2 separate regions of the Homo sapiens genome follow, and region 2 is linked to region 1. Evidence: fine-mapped QTL for protein levels in blood plasma. A gene starts in region 1. The other region holds a variant in brackets. All regions are shown on one strand. Distances are from middle to middle.

Region 1 (8,000 bases):
GAGCCAAGATCGCACCACTGCACTCCAGCCTGGGCAATGGAGTGAGACTCCATCTCAAAAAAAAAAAAAAAAAAGGAAGGCCATGTGAAGACACAGAAACACACACAGGGAGAGCACCAGGTGCTCAGGGTGGCAGAGATTACGGTGATGCGCCCATACCACAAGAAATACCAAGAATTCTGGCAACCACCAGAAGCCAGGAAACAGGCACAGAAGGAGTCTTCGCTGGCGCCTCAAGGGCAGCACAGCCCGGCTGACACGTTGGTTTCAGACTTGTCAGACTTCTGATTTCCAGAACTATGAGAGGATATACTTCTGTTGTTTTATGCTACCCACTTTGTGGCATTTCATTCAGGCAGCTCTAAGAAACAAACGACCTCACCCAGCAGCAGAGGAGCTAACGAGTTCCTTCCGCAGAACCCGGAAGGGCAAAGCACACAGTCCCACGGGGACCCGGAACTCACCAAGAGGCCAGGTCACCACTCCACAGCTCAAACTGTGGGCTAAATCAGGTTCAAAAGATAAAGTGGACTCAGCAAAGTGAATTATTAAACAAAAAAGGACAACACAAAATGTGTACTTTTTTTATTTTTTTGAGACGGAGTCGCACTCTGTTGCCCAGGCTAGAGTGCAATGGCGTGATCTCGGCTCACTGCAACCTCCACCTCCCAGGTTCAAGCGATTCTCCTGCCTCAGCCTCCTGAGTAGCTGGATTACAGGCGTGTGGCACCATGCCTGGCTAATTTTTGTATTTTTAGTAGAGACGGGGTTTCACCACGTTGATCAGGCTGGCCTCGAACTCCTGACCTCATGATCCGCCTGCCTCAGCCTCCCAAAGTGCTGCGATTACAGGTGTGAGCCACCACACCCAGCCAAATGTGCACATTTACCCAAATTATGGATATGTGATAATCTAAAAATTAGGGGCTAAAATCCACCTGGCCTTCACCATAGGCTGAAACATGGAGCTAAATGCATCACATACATGAATTAATTTAATCCCCACAATAACCCCACATGGCAGGTCCTGTGCTTTCCCATTTGACAGAAGGGAAAACTGATGGCACAGAGCTTTTAAATAAGCTGCCCAAGGAACCTTCCAGGGAGCAAGTGGTGGGGCTGGGGTTTGAACCCAGGAAGCCTGCCTCCAAGTGCTCACTCTTCACAGCCTCACAAGACTGCTGCTGCCATGAGTAAAATCTGGAAGGTAATCCAATAGAAAACAAATTGGTGTGTTACATTTTCTTTAGTGTTTTTAACATTCTTATGTTATTAATTTAAGCTGTTGTGGCCATACCACCACCACCAAGGATGAGCCATCTGAGAACGGGGACAACGCAGAGAGGAAGGTGGCTTAACAAAAAGAGAAACTAAGCACTGATGGCAGCACCTAAGCGCCTAGATCCAGCCACACCTGAAGCTAGTGATGGCTTTTTGGTTTCCTCAGCCAAATTATTCTCGTTTTGTTTATGCCAATTTTGGTTGCAAGTGACAGAAAACTCAACCTAGAAAGAAATACCAAGTACTGGTTGAACTGTTAGCTCTGCTGGGATCCCAGGCCACACACTGCCTTCCCCTTGGCTTTTTTTTTTTCCCCTTGAGACAGAATCTCCCTCTGTCACCCTGGCTGGAGTGCAATGGTGTGATCTCTGCTCACTGCAACCTTTGCCTCCCAGGTTCAAGCAATTCTCCCACCTCAGCCTCCCGAGTAGCTGGGACTACAGGCCCGCGCCACCACTCCCGGCTAATTCTTGGATTTTTAGTAGAGATGGGGTTTCACCATGTTGGCCAGGCTGGTCTTGAACTCCTGACCCCAGGTGATCCGCCTGCCTCGTCCTCCCAGAGTGCTGGGATTACAGCCGTAAGCCACTGTGCCCGGCTCCCCTTTGCGTGATCCTGGTCCAGTACCTGTTTGCTCACAGATGCCACCTTGCTTCGTCTCCCAAGACCCTCTGAGCATATGGACTCTTTTTATCACTCTTAGGTAGTCAACTACAAGTTGATCTTTCCAAAGATTGTTTTATAGGAAAAACAAAAGAAGCCTGAGTGGCCACAAGAAAACTTGAAGATAAAGGTCCCTCCCCAAGATCCCCTGAATCCAGCTGGACTGGGAGGAACTGGTGGGGTCTGGGAGCAGCCCGGCCAGGGCAGTCTTCCCATGAAAGGCATTACCCCAGAGAAATCAAAGGGCTCCAACAAACCTTGCCTCACCCATTGCTTTTCCATTTTCGCCCCAGCCGCATTCTTTAGCGCACTGGGCCTTCCTGAACTGCCCAAACTAGACCCAGAAAACGCCACAGATCAGTGCCTGGAAGCCAGACAAAGAAACCAGGGTGTCAGGGAGGCAGAGGAGGCGGAGGCTCCCAAGTGCCGGCTCTGCAAACCTCCATGCAGGGGCAGCGGAGGCTCAGGCGACGCAGCGCCAGTCACAGCGCCTTTAAATAGAACCTCCACGCGGAGGGCAAACACATTCCATGCGCTTTTAAAAACGCCCAAGCATGACCTGGCCGGCGGCCTCAGCTCCCCCAGGCATTTTTCCGGTCTCGGCTCAATTCTGGAAATATTAATAGCTCGGTTAAGAGCTTACCGGGTGCAAAATACTTTTCGGCCTTAAAAGGCAGGGACTGTTACTGCTCCCACTCTCCAGATGAGGAAACTGAGATCCCCGGAGGTTCCAGGCGACGAGGTGGACTAGTGGGTCTCTATCGCCTGCCTCTGGCTCAGTGTCTCCCCAGGTGAGCGGCTCCCCGCGCACTGGGGCTCACAGAGCAGGACCGCAACGAGCCCCCGCCGGACCGGTGCCAGCGGCCAAGTTCGGTTCCCACAACCGCCCCCCCTCCCCGCGCCCCCAGGAGGCTCCCGGGCCGCGCCTGCTCCAGGAAAGTCCTGAATCTCTTACAACGACTTTACCAAACTCCCCGTTCTCGGCCTCCGCTCATTCATCAGACCCCGCGCTGCAGCCAAGGATTAACTTTCCCCTTTTGTTTTAAAAGATAAAAGGCCAACAGGGGCTAATTTTTCCCTTGGGGGGATACAGTGAAAGCTGGCAGGTGAGGCGCGGCGACGGCTCCCTTTCCTAGAAGTTGCTTTCGGAGCAAATCTCCGGACTGGCGGGCGGAGGGGGCGGGACCAGTGGTCGGGGTTGGGGGACCTGGAACTCGGGCCCGGCAGCCGCCGAGAACTTTTGGGCTCCGTCCCGGAGAGCTCCTGCTCCTGGTGTCCCCCCTCTTCGGCCCCGTCCCCCACCGCGCCGAGATAGACCCGAGCACGCAAGATCTGGCTGCGTTGGGCCAAATGCTACCTGCACCCCGGGACCCCTCCCCACACAAACAGGGCCCGGGACTTCGGACCAGAAAGCCCTCCCGCTCCCTCCCTGGTCCCGGGGGCGAAGGGCGCGCAGCGGGAGCTCACAGTTTGAACATGCTCTCCAGGTCCTTGATGAGGCGGCGGCTGAACTCCGGGAACTCCGTGTAGGGGTTGAAGACCCTGCAGCGCCGGGGCCGCGCAGCGCCCTCGTTGATGTCCAGCCGCCGGCTCAGCTGGGCGCTCAGCTCCGCGTCGGCGCTGGCCGTGGGCGCACGGGCGGGAGGCTCGGGCTCGGGCTTGGGCTCCGGGGCTGGGGCGCCGAGGGGAGCCAGCTGGGGGCCACTCTCCTCGGCCTCCTCGCGCCGCAGCCGGCGCTCCAGCTTGCACGCCAGCTCCTCACTGGCCATGGCGGCGGATCGCAGGACGCGGGAACGCGGGGACGCGGGACGGGACGCAGGGAGCTGGCGGGCGGCGCGCTCCTCGCAGGCTCGAGGCTCTACAACACTCCGCCGAGGCGGCGGGGACCCGGCGGTTGGGAGGGTCTGAGGACGGACTGGCGGGCGGGGCGGTCGGGGCGGAGCTGCGGCTTTAAGGAGGCGCCAGGGCTCAGCGACTGCCAGCCTGGTGGGAGGAGGCCGCCGGTGTCTGGGTGTCTGCGCGTCCCGGAGACCCCGACCTGCTTCCTCTCCCCGCGGCTCCGGGCGGGAGGCTGACCGTCCCCCCGGGACCAGGCAGGGACCCTCGGATCAACTCCGACCTTGCTGCCCCTGTCAGCTCCGGGGAAAACCGTAGCGGGAAAAAGCGTCTCGACCGTTCAGACGGTGCCTTTCTTGTCCCCCAGAAGTAACCCGACTGGAAGCGCTCGCGGCCCGGGACAGGCTGGGTGGGGGAGGCGAGCGCCCCCGAGCGACACCCACGCGTCCCCCGCGTCTGGGAGTGGTGCCCACCCTCCCCGGGGTCAGGGAGTGGGAGGCGCCCGCCCGGAGCGTGGGGCGGGGGAGCTGCTTTTCAAACACTCATTGGAACGAAATGTTTCCAAAACATGCTAAAAATACTAAAAACAAATAAGCAAACAAAAAAGAGAGAGAGCAAACGAGCAGAAAAAACTCCCGTTTTCCCTAGAGGCAGGAAAGCAGCGTAGCTTCAGGGACTCGGGTTTTTTTGCGTGAAACGCACAAGAAAAGAGAAGAAACCTGGCGCGGAGACTCACATCCGCAATCCCAACACTTAGGTGTTGGTGGCAGGATCTTTTGAGCCCAGGAGTTCGAGACCAGACTGGGCAACATAGTTAGACTGTCTCTACAAAAACTTTTAAAAAATCAGCCAGGCATAGTGGCGCTCGTCTGTAGTCCCAGCTACTCAGGAGGCTGAAGTAGGAGGATGGCTTGAGCCCGGGAGGTCGAGGCTGCAACGAGCCATGGTCAGGCCACTGCACTCCAGCCTGGGCGACAGAGTGAGACCCTGGCTCTAAAAATAAACGAAGAAGAAGGAGGGAGAGGGGGAGGAAAAAAGAAAGGAAAGAAGGAAAAGAAGCTTGAAAATTAAATCAGCATTTTTAACAAGAGGGTAAAAACAAATACAGTCGTCATTCTCCCCAAGGAAGGCTGATGCCGCTGTTACATCAGCCAGGCGTTGAGAATCTTGTAAACACGGGTCTGTCCCCACTTGAGAACGACGCTGCTCTGACCCACCATGGGCTGATGACTGGGGCAGGTCAGTGACCCCGCTGGACTATGGTTGTCTGAGACCCAGGGACCAGCCTTTGGCATGCGAGTGCAGGGCATGCGGGGGACCTGGGTTAAAATGTTATTTTTAAAAAGTTATAAAGGAAAATACGTTTTTTAAAGAAAAGTATAAAAATCTTTAACATTCCTACTGAACAACTTGACTTGGTACAGAGAATACGGGTTTTACATATACAATGGCAACCCTGCAAATAGATCACGGGGCGCTACACTTCCTGACCTGGTGGTGGTGACTAGAAGGTTGGCTTTGTTGTCACATCTGTTTTGACCACTTTATGTGACACATTTCAGAGAAATAAGGTCAAAAATTTTGTGTAATTAAACTTTTTTTAATTTTATATTTTAAAAACTTTTTTTTTTTTTGAGATGGAGTTTCATTCTTGTTTCCCAGGCTGGAGTGCAATGGCATGATCTCGGCTCACTGCAGTCCCTGCCTCCTGGGTTCAAGTGATTCCCCTGCCTCAGCCTCCTGAGTAGCTGGGATTACAGGCGCCCACCACTGCACCTGGCTAATTTTTTGTATTTTTAGTAGAGACAGGGTTTCTCCATGTTGGCTAGGCTGGTTGTGAACTCCTAGCCTCAGACGATCCTCCCACCTCGGCCTCCCGAAGTGCTGGGATTACAGGCATGAGCCACCACACCCAGCTGGTTTTGTTTTTGTTTTTTTTTTTTTTTAATGTTCTTATTCCATCGAGCTCTCCTCAAGAAAGAAAAAGTTCAAAATTCTTAATAGTCTCCATCAACAAGAAACTCTGGGGCTGGGCGCGGTGGCTCACACCTGTAATCCCAGCACTTTGGGAGGCAGAGGCAGACGCATCACTTGAGCCCAGGAGTTTGAGACCAGCTTGGGCAACATGGCAAAACCTTGTGTACAAAAAAAGATAAAATAAAAAATAAAAATAAAATAAAAAACAACTAGCCAGGTGTGGTAGTATGCACCTGTAGTCCCAGCTATTTGGGATCACTTGGGCCCGGGAGGTGGAGGCTGCAGTGAGCCATGATCATGCCACTGCACTCTAGCCTGGGTGGTAGAGTAAGACCTGTCTGAGAGAGAGAGAGAGACAGAGAGAGAGAGAGAGAAAGAAAGAGAGAGAGAGAGAGAGAAACTTTGCATGAGTAGGTAATACAATTTTTTTTTTAAGACGGAGTTTTGCTCTTGTTGCCCAGGCTGAAGTGCAGTGGTGCGATCTCGGCTCACTGCAACCTCTGCCTCCCAGGTTCAAGCGATTCACCTGCCTCAGCCTCCCAAGTAGCTGGGATTACAGGCACCCACCACCAAGCCCAGCTAATATTTTATATTTTTAGTAGAGACGGGGTTTCACCATGTTGGCCAGGCTGGTTTTGAACTCCTGGCCCCAAGGAATCCACCTGTCTTGGCTTCCCAAAGTGCTAGGATTACAGGCATGAGCTACTGTGCCCGGCCAGTAATAGAATTTTTAAACCATTTTTTACATGCTGAAATTTACAACAGTTAGTGTTAAAAAAATCTAACAGCTCTTTTTATTTATGAATATAATGTTGAAAATTTTTTAAATTAAAAATGACTTTTTTTCTTTTCTTTCTTTCTTTTTTTTTTTTTTTTAATAGAGATGAGATCTCTCTATGTTGCCCAGGCAGGTCTTGAACTCCTGGGCTCAATTGATCCTATTTGCCTAGGCCTCCCAAAGTGCTGGGATTACAGGGGTGAGCCACGGTGCCCAGCCTTGAAAATTCTGAAATTAATGGGAGTGGATTGTGAACAAAATTTCACTTTTTCATTGAAGTGTTTCCAAATGAGGGAGTGCTTTTAGATAATGCGCTTGCATACTGTGAGCAGTCACCTGGTGCCTCTCAAAAGGCACATCATCTGCAAGGGGCAAAGATTGAGGGCTGTGTCCACCAGGCACCCAGCCTAGACAGAACGCCCTCTGAGCTATGTCCCGCCCCTGAGGGAAAATAGCACAGGCCCACAGTATTCACCAGGCAACACCTGGCCACCCCTCAGAATGAAGTGTTAGTATCTCACTAGTGACAATTCCAGGTGGTCACCGTTACGGCCACAGCCCAAAGCCTGTTCTCCTTCTCCTCTTTTCCGATGTCCAGTCGGGCACCTGACAAAGACTCAAACATGCTTGCTGGGCCGGCTGTGGTGGCTCACACCTATAATCCCAGCACTTTGGGAGGCTGAGGCAGGTGGAACATTTGAGGTGAGGAGTGCAAGACCAGCCTAGACAACATGGTGACAGCCCGCCTCTACTAAAAACACAAAAATTAGCTGGACATGGTGGCATGTGCCTGTAGTCCCAGCTACCTGGGAGGCAGAGGTGGGAGAATCGCTTGAACCTGGGAGGTGGAGATTGCAGTGAGCCAAGATCGAGCCATTGCACTCCAGCCTGGGCGACAGAGACCCTGTCTCAAACAAACAAACAAACAAACAAAAAACATGCTTGTTGAATCATGGGCCAATATCAATCTTACTGTACAAATATGACCCATGTTTTGTAAAACAAATATCTATATATGGAAAAAAAAAACTAAAGGGGGCAAATTATTAACAGTTATAAATGCTAAGAGTCCAGATAATTTTCATTTTCATTTTTTAAATTCTCATTTTTTTTTGGCCGGGCGTGGTGGCTCATGCCTATAATCCCAGCACTTTGGGAGGCCGAGGCGGGTGGATCACCTGAGGTCAGGAGTTCGAGACCAGCCTGGCCAACATGGTGAAACCCCATCTCTACTAAAAATACAACCGTTAGCCGGGCGTGGTGACACGCACCTGTAGTCCCAGGTACTCGGGAGGCTGAGGCAGAAGAATCGCTTGAACTCGGGAGGCGGAGGTTGCAGTGAGCCAAGATGGCACCACTGCACTCCAGCCTGGGAGACAGAGTGAGACTCCATATGAAAAAAAAAAGAAAAAGAAAATCTCATTTTTCTGAATTTCCTACAATGAATGTATAAAACTGTAATCAG
Region 2 (8,000 bases), 26 kb before region 1:
GAACATCGCCAAATTTCTTATTATTTTACTCAAATGAGGTTATACTACTACCCATGCTGCTTTTTCCAGGCCAGCACTGGGGTTAGCTGTCACCTAAAAGGTATTTTTGAAAGCGGAATTGCAGGTTAGATACGCAAACAGCGCTCTGGAGAGGCCAAACCCATTTGTGCTCCAGTGGGCTGTACACCTGAAGGTCCTCTCAGGGGCACCCCACAGGGGCTCAGGGCCACAGCAGGCAGGTACCTCCCGGAAGCTGAGCTTGCCATCGAAGTCCTCATCCACCTCCTTGATCATGCTCTTCAGGCCCAGGTGGGTCTGGGGGGCCCCCAGCTTCTCCATCATCAGCTTCAGCTCCATCAGGTCGATGAAGCCATCCCGCCCAGCGTCATACCTGCAGGGTCAAAGGAATGCATGACCGGGATGAAAGGACACTCGTTAGTCTCCGAAACATGTAATTCCTTTGGCTTCATTCATCGAAAAATGACTCAAATACCTCCCGCTCTGCGAGGCCAATGTGGGTCACCTGCTCCAGAGGAACCCCTCTCTCCTCAGAGCGCTTCAGGGCTTTGTATGACTCAAAGCAGATCTTGTACTACCTGTTGGTTTTCATGTCTTTTATCTCCTCAACTAAACCATAATTTCTGGAGGGTGAGAAACATGCTTTGTTTACCTTTATTTCCCCCAGTTTCAGTCAACAAACATCAAGCGAGCACCTCCTCCTAATGCTGGACACTGGAGGGGTTGCAGGAGCTGGCCCCTGACGCCCAGCACGTTCACAGGGAAGGGCTGGCAATTCCAGGAGCCTCCTCCTGGTCACTGCCCCTGGTTCTCTCCCACAGCCATTCCCAACAGCCCGCCTTTCCGTCCCAGGTCTAGGGAAGTTGCTTCCCACCCCTGTGTGCGGAATCATGACTCTGGCTCATGATTCCCCTCTGGTTCGCTCGTCTTGTCTCCAGCTCTGAACGGCCGTGTCTACCAAGAGGGCTCTGACTCTGTCCTCTAACAGGGCCACCCCTCTGCTGACTGGCCCCCCAGCCCCCAGCCAGGAAACAAACCCAGCTTCACCAGGTGGGACTGGGCCTGTCCCCTCCTGGCCCAGCCATCTTCAGCCCTGTGTGCTCTGCTTCCTCCAAGCCACTTCCCCCATTACAGGATTTCTCCACAGACCCCCTGGCTCTCCTCCCTTCAAGCATTTCCCGCCACCCAGAGACCCCTTGTTGCTCAGGTATGAATACCTTGCTCTAAAAACAAATCAGTTTACAACAGCCAAAAGGTGGAAACAACGCGGGTGTCTGCGGACAGATGAAAGGAGAAACGAAACGGGGTATATCCAGCCAGGCGTGGTGGCTCATGCCTGTAATTCCAGCACTTCAGGAGGCCGAGGCGGGCGGATCACCTGAGGTCAAGAGTTCGTAGACCAGCCTGGCAAACATGGTGAAACCCTGTTTCTACTAAAAATACAAAAATTAGCTGGGCATGGTGGTGCACGCCTGTAATCCCAGCTACTCGAGAGGCTGAGGTGGGAGAGCTACTGGGAGGCGGAGGTGGCAGTGAGCTGAGATTGCACCACTGCACTCCAGGCTGGGTGACAGAGCGAGACTGTCTCAAAAAAAAAAAAAAAAAAGGGGTGGTGGTGGGGGTATAGCCGTATATCCATACAATGAAATATAGTATGTTTATACAAGGGAATATTATTTGGCAATAAAAAGGAAGGGAAGGCTTATACACGGGTGAACCTTGAGGGCATTCTGCTAAGTGAAACAAGCCAGCCACAGAAAGGCAAATGCTGTATGGTGCCACTTCTGCGATGTTCTTACAGTAGTCAAATTCATAGAGACAGAAAGTGGATGATTGGTTGCCAGGGGCTGGGAGAGAGGGGCATGGGAGTTAGTGTTCAATGGATAGAGATTCAACTTGAGATGAGAAAAAGGTTCTGGCGATGGATGGTGGTGATGGCAGCACGATAATGTGAATGTACTTAATGATGTCCACTTACTTGGTTAAAGTGGTCAGAGGTTTTGTTTTTTTGTTTTTGTTTTTTTTTTGAGACAGAGTCATGTTCTTTCACTCAGGCTGGAGTGAAGCTGCACGATCTCTGCTCACTGCAACCTCCGCCTCTCAGGTTCAAGCGTTTCTAGTGCCTCAGCCTCCCAAGTAGCTGGAATTACAGGTGTGCGCCACCACACCCAGCTAATTTTTGTTTTGTTTTGTTTTTGAGACGGAGTCTGGCTCTGTCACCCAGGCTGGAGTGCAGTGGCACAATCTCGGCTCACTGCGACCTCTGCCTCCTGGGTTTAAGCGATTCTCCTGCCTCAGTCTCCCAAGTAGCTGGGATTACAAGTGTGTGCCACCACACACAGCTAATTTTTGTATTTTTAGTAGAGACGGGGTTTCACCATGTTGGCCAGGCTGGTCTCGAACACCTGACCTCACATGATCCGCCCGCCTTGGCCTCCTAGAGTCTTGGGATTACAGACATGAGCCACTACACCTGGCCTGGTCAATTTTATGTTAAGTGCATTTTACCACAATTTGTAAAAAATTAAATAAATAAGGCTGGGTATAGTATCATATGCCCACCCGTAGTCCCAGCTACTTGGGAGACTGGGGTGGGATGGTCACTTGAGCCCAGGAGTTTGATTGCATTCAGCCTGGGCAATGTAGTGAGACCCCATCTCTTAAAAAAATAAAGAGGCCTGGCGCAGTGGCTCACACCTGTAATCCCAATACTTTGGGAGGCCAAGGCGGGTGGATCACGAGGTCAGGAGAACAAGATCGAGACCATCCTGGCTAACACGGTGAAATCCCATCTCTACTAAAAATACAAAAAATGAGCCGGGCGTGGTGGCAGGCACCTGTAGTCCCAGCTACTTGGGAGGCTGAGGCAGGAGAATGGCATGAACCCAGGAGGCGGAGCTTGCAGTAAGCCGAGGTCGTGCCACTGCACTCCAGCCTGGGTGACAGAGCAAGATTCCGCCTCAAAAAAAAAATAAATAAATAAATAAAATAAAATAAAATAAATAAATAACACAAATTTAAAAATTAAAATAAGTAAATCAGGCTTCCTCACTGATCTGGTTTGGATCTGCATCCCCACCAAATCTCATGTCGAACTGTAGTCCCCAGTGTTGGAGGTGGGACTTAGTGGGAGGCGGTTGGATCATGGGGGTGGATTTCTCACAAATGGTTCTGCACCATCCCCTTGGTGCCATTCTTGTGATAGTGAGTGAGTTCTTGCAAGACCTGGTTGTTCAAAAGTGTGCAGCACTTCCCCGCTTGCTCTGTCTTGCTCCTGTTCCGGCCATGTGAAGTACTGCTCCCCCTTCACCTTCTGCCATGGTTGTAAGTTTCCTGAGGCCTCCCCAGAAGCCAAGCACACGCTGCCATGCTTCCGGTACAGCCTGCAGAACTGTGCATGAGCCAATTAAGCCACTTTTCTTATAAATTAGTTAGTCTCAGGTTTTTCTTTATTGCTGTTTGAGAACTGACTCATCCACTCATTACCCGTCTGCATTCTCCCCAACACAGCCTCAGTAACAAAAACCCACCATTATTGAGAACAACCACTACCTGCCAAGAAATGTAGCCTGTGGGCACCTAGGAATCTAGTGCTGTGGACTGGCAGTAGTTAAGGCTCCCAAGGTCAGGCTGGAGAGGAGGCCCAGGAATCCCTGACAGGCTCCCTTCCAGCCACAGTGGCCAACTTGTGCCATTCCTCTCACCCAGCCACCCCCTCCCTGCCCTCCTCTATGGTCCTCCTGTGCCCAGGAGCTCAGGGAGCCACCTGCTTCCCCCACAGCTCTCCAATAGCACCCACTGTCCATCCTTCTCCGGGACTTAGCATTCACCACCTTCCTCTGGTGGGTGCTTCTATTTTTATTTCTTGTGTTTTTTTTTTTCTCAGTGCCCTCACTTTAACAGTATGCTGGCTACTTCTTACTCAAGCAGCTCTGTGCTCAGTGCAGCCTCCTTGCTGGCAGAGCTACATTGCAAAGCACTAAAGGACACAGACAAGATCGCTGGGTGGCTGTTGGTGAGCTTTGAGGAACCGTGAAGGATGAGACAGGTGTTCCAGATCTGGAAACAAGCAAGGTGCTTCTGGGTTTCCCAGAAGTGGGCAGAGTATGTGAATCACAGATGCACCAGCCCAGGATCTAGTGTTGCCAGAGGACGGTTTGTGAGCACTTTAAGAAGGGAAGCAACAATTTCCATGGGTTCACTGAAAATGACTTGAGGATGGACCTCACTTCCCTGTTTTCTAAGTTTTTTTTAAAAAACAGCTTTACTGAGATATAATTAACATACCATAAAATTCACTGTACAGTGCATTAATTTTTAGTATATTCAGGTTGTGCCAACATCATTACCATGTAATTCCAGAACGTTTGCCTCACCCTAAAAAGAAACTGATACCCATT[A/G]GCAGTCATTCCCCACTCTCCCCTTGCCACCCCTATCCCCCAGCAACTACTAGCCTTTCTGTCTGTATGGATTTGCCTCTTGTGGACATTTTGTAGCCCAACAATATTCCACTGTATCAATATACCACACTTCGTTTCTTCACTCATCAGGTGATGGACATTTTGTTGTTTCCACCTTTTGGCTCTTATGAATAGTGTTGCTTTGAACGTTCATATACAAGTGTTTGGACATATATTTCCATTTTTTCGTGTATATACCCAAGATTGGATGCTGGGTCACATGCTTATTTAGTTGTGAAACGTTACTGTCAAGTTGATCTAACAGAAAACCACAGCTGACCTGATGTTACCACTCAGGGTGAGCAACGCCCTCTAGCAGGCAGGCTCTTATGGGGAAGAGAAGTATGGATACAATTAGGCGGACTGGCTGTTAGTTAAAGCCACCTGGAAAGGGTGCTGACTCTCAGATTCGCTGGTGACACAAAGTTGGGGCAGAATCTAGGCCCAAAAGATCTCAGCAAGCTGGTGTGATGTCCACAGATAAAATATAGCAAAGAAAAATGCAAGGTCCTGGCTGGGTGCAGTGGCTCATGCCTATAATCCCAGCACTTTGTGAGGCCGAGGTGGGTGGATCATCTGAGGTCAGGAGTTCGAGACCAGCCTGACCAACATGGTGAAACCCCGTCTCTACTAAAAATACAAAAAAATTAGCCAGGCATGGTGGCGCATGCCTGTAATCTCAGCTACTCAGGAGGCTGAGGCAGAAGAATCTGTTGAACCTGGGAGGCAGAGGTTGCAGTGAGCCGAGATCGCACCACTGCACTCCAGCCTGAGTGACAGAGTGAAACTCAGTCTCAAAAAAAAAAAAAAAAAAAGAAAAGAAAGAAAAATGCAAGGTCCTAAACAAAGAATTACCATAGGATCCAATGGAGTCTGGACACTAGTATTCTTTTTTTTTTTTTGAGATGGAGTTTCATTCTTGTTGCCCAGGCTGGAGTGCAGTGGTGCGATCTCAGCTCACTGCAACCTCCACCTCCCGGGTTCAAGTGATTCTCCTGCCTCAGGCCTCCCGAGTAGCTGGGATTACAGGCGCCCACCACCATGGCCGGCTAATTTTTTGTATTTTTAGTAGAGACAGGGTTTCATCATGTTGGCCAGGTGGGTCTCGAACTCCTGACCTCAGGTGATCCGCCTGCCTCGGTCTCCCAAAATGCAGGGATTACAGGCGTGAGCCACCATGCCTGGCTGACACTAGTATTCTTAGCAGCATTATTCACAGTCACCAAAAGGTAGAAACAACTCAAATGCCCATTGACAAAATGTGATCTATACAAACAATGGAATTTCATTCAGCAATGAAAGGGAAGTGAACTCTGACCCATGCTCACAGGCTACAACATGGGTGAACCTTGAAGACATTGTGCCAAGTGAAATAAGCCAGTCGCAAAAAGGGCACCTCATTGTATGAATTCACTTATCAGGTCCCTAGAGTAGTCAAAATCATCGAGACAGAAGTAGAATGGTGACTGTCAAGGGCTGGGGAGGTGAATGGGGAGTTAGTGTTGAATGGGGACAGAGTTTCAGTTTAGGAGGGTGAAGACATTCTGGAAATGGATGACAGTGATGGTTGCATAATAATGTCAATGTTGTTGCCACTGAACTCTATACTTAAAAATGGTTAAAAATGGTGAATTTTGCTGGGTGCAGTCAGGCTTGCCTGTTATCCCAGCACTCTGGCAGGCCCAGGCAGGAGAATCACTTGAGCCTAGGAGTTTCAGACCAGCCTGGGCAACAAAACAAGACCCCATCTCTACAAAAAAATTAAGAAAGTACCTGAATGTGGTGGCCCACATCTGCGGTCCCAGCTACTCGGGAGGCTGAAGGGGGAGGATCACTTGAGCACAAGAGTTTGAGGCTACAGTGAGCTGTGATCACTCCAGCCTAGGTGACAGCATGCGACCCTGTCTCAAACAAAACAAAACTGCTAAATTTCACATTATGTATATCTCACCACAATTTTTAAAAAATGCAAGGTACTGGCTGGGAGCAGTGGTGCATGCCTCCAATCCCAGCACTTTGGGAGGCTGAGGTGGGAGGACTGTTTGAGCCCAGGAGTTCAAGACAAGCCTGGGCAACATAGTGAGACCCTGTCTCTTCAAAAATATAAAAAAATTAGCAAGGCATAGTGGCATGTGCCTGTGGTTCCAGCTCCTCAGAAGGCTGAGGCAGGGGGATCATTTCAAGCCTGGGAGGTCGAGGCTGCAATGAGCTGTGCTCATACAACTGCACTCCAGCCTGGGTGACAGAGTGAGACTCTGTCCCAAAACAATTAAAAAAAAAAAAAAAAAGCAAGGTCCTAAAACTAAGACCCCCACAGACTGACTTTCCCAGCACAGGTTTTGAGAGAAATGGCGCTCACTTGCAACTGTGACCACACCTTCAGGGGACTGGGACCCTACAGTGAGTCAGGGAGGCTGCCAGAAAACTCATGGGCGAAATAAATCATAGTGGCAAGTACAAAAAGTCCTGAATCCTGAATGCAAGGGCCACAGTCCTACCCACCTCATCATGGTCTGCCCCACTCCACACAGACCTCACACTTCAGGGAGGCCATGGGCCTGGTCAGTGGGAAGCAGCCAAGAAGACGAATGGACTTAAGACCCCACACAGGCCGGGCACGGTGGCTCACGCCTGTAATCCCAGCACTTTGGGAGGCCGAGGTGGGTGGATCACGCGGTCAGGAGATCAAGACCATCCTGGCTAACACAGTGAAACCCCATCTCTACTAAAAATACAAAAAAAGAGCCGGGCATGGTGGCAGGCGCCTGTAGTCCCAGCTACTCGGGAAGCTGAGGCAGGAGAATGGCGTGAACCCAGGAGGCGGAGCTTGCAGTAAGCCGAGGTCGTGCCACTGCACTCCAGCCTGGGTGACAGAGCAAGATTCCGACTCAAAAAAAAAAAAAAAAAAAAAAGACCCCACACAAGGACAGGACAGGGGTGGAAGGAACAAGTGGGATCTGGCAAAGAGCTGCCTTCAGATGTTGCCCAGGGGCCCAAAGGCTGCCAGAACTGGGCTCTGTGCATGGAAATGGGTGAGACAGACTTTAGCTAAGTGCAAGGAAGTGCCTTCTGGCAAAACGGCCAACTGGAACTAGACCTGAGAAGTAAAGAGAGCTTGCACAAACCGGCTGGGAGGGACAGTCTCTGTTACACGGAGTCCCAGTCAAAGTTAACAGGTTCAGTGTGGAACTTTCCAGAGCCTTCCGTATGTGTCCAAAACTTACAAGAGGGAAACAGAGCACACAGACTCATCTGACCACACAGTCCTCTGCATTTGGGGATTTTCTGTTGAGAAGACGTACCTTGGCAATGCGGTTTTTCAAGGAAACCCTCTGAGAAGCACTTCTCTGGTCAAGTCAGCCTTAGAAGGGGTGGCCCAGTTAAATGACCACTAAGGGCAGGTACAGTGGCTTGAACCTGTAATCCTAGCTACTCCAGAGGCTGAGGCAGGAGGACTGCTTGAGCCCAGCAGGTCAAGTCCAGCCTGGGCAACACAGTGAGATCTATCTCTTAAAAAAGAAA

Direction of the effects. Alleles are on the strand shown, and positions count from the first base shown. The strength of an association depends on the size of the effect and on how common the allele is.
For the plasma level of the protein whose gene starts at base 3,814 in region 1, A is the low allele of the variant in region 2 and G is the other (moderate association).

The links. PIP is the chance, under the fine-mapping model, that this variant and not a neighbour inherited with it causes the effect. The UK Biobank Pharma Proteomics Project read protein levels with antibody pairs (Olink). The fine-mapping took linkage between variants from a reference panel, not from the people measured, so its PIPs are less certain.
Region 2: its variant is fine-mapped to the plasma level of the EFHD1 protein (UK Biobank, PIP 0.97).

The regions. Positions count from the first base shown.
Region 1 is chr2:232,629,418-232,637,417 of GRCh38, reverse strand. It overlaps EFHD1 (EF-hand domain family member D1), which reads right to left and starts at 3,814. Exons shown (of 4, transcript NM_025202.4): 1 at 3,412-3,814. The coding sequence starts at 3,713. RefSeq lists silencers at 3,345-3,639, 3,717-3,776.
Region 2 is chr2:232,655,193-232,663,192 of GRCh38, reverse strand. It overlaps EFHD1 (EF-hand domain family member D1), which reads right to left. Exons shown (of 4, transcript NM_025202.4): 2 at 244-391. Among named protein-coding and RNA genes, the nearest start is that of EFHD1, 26 kb to the right of the region's middle. RefSeq lists an enhancer at 599-1,098. The variant A/G (reference allele first, on the strand shown) is at 4,419.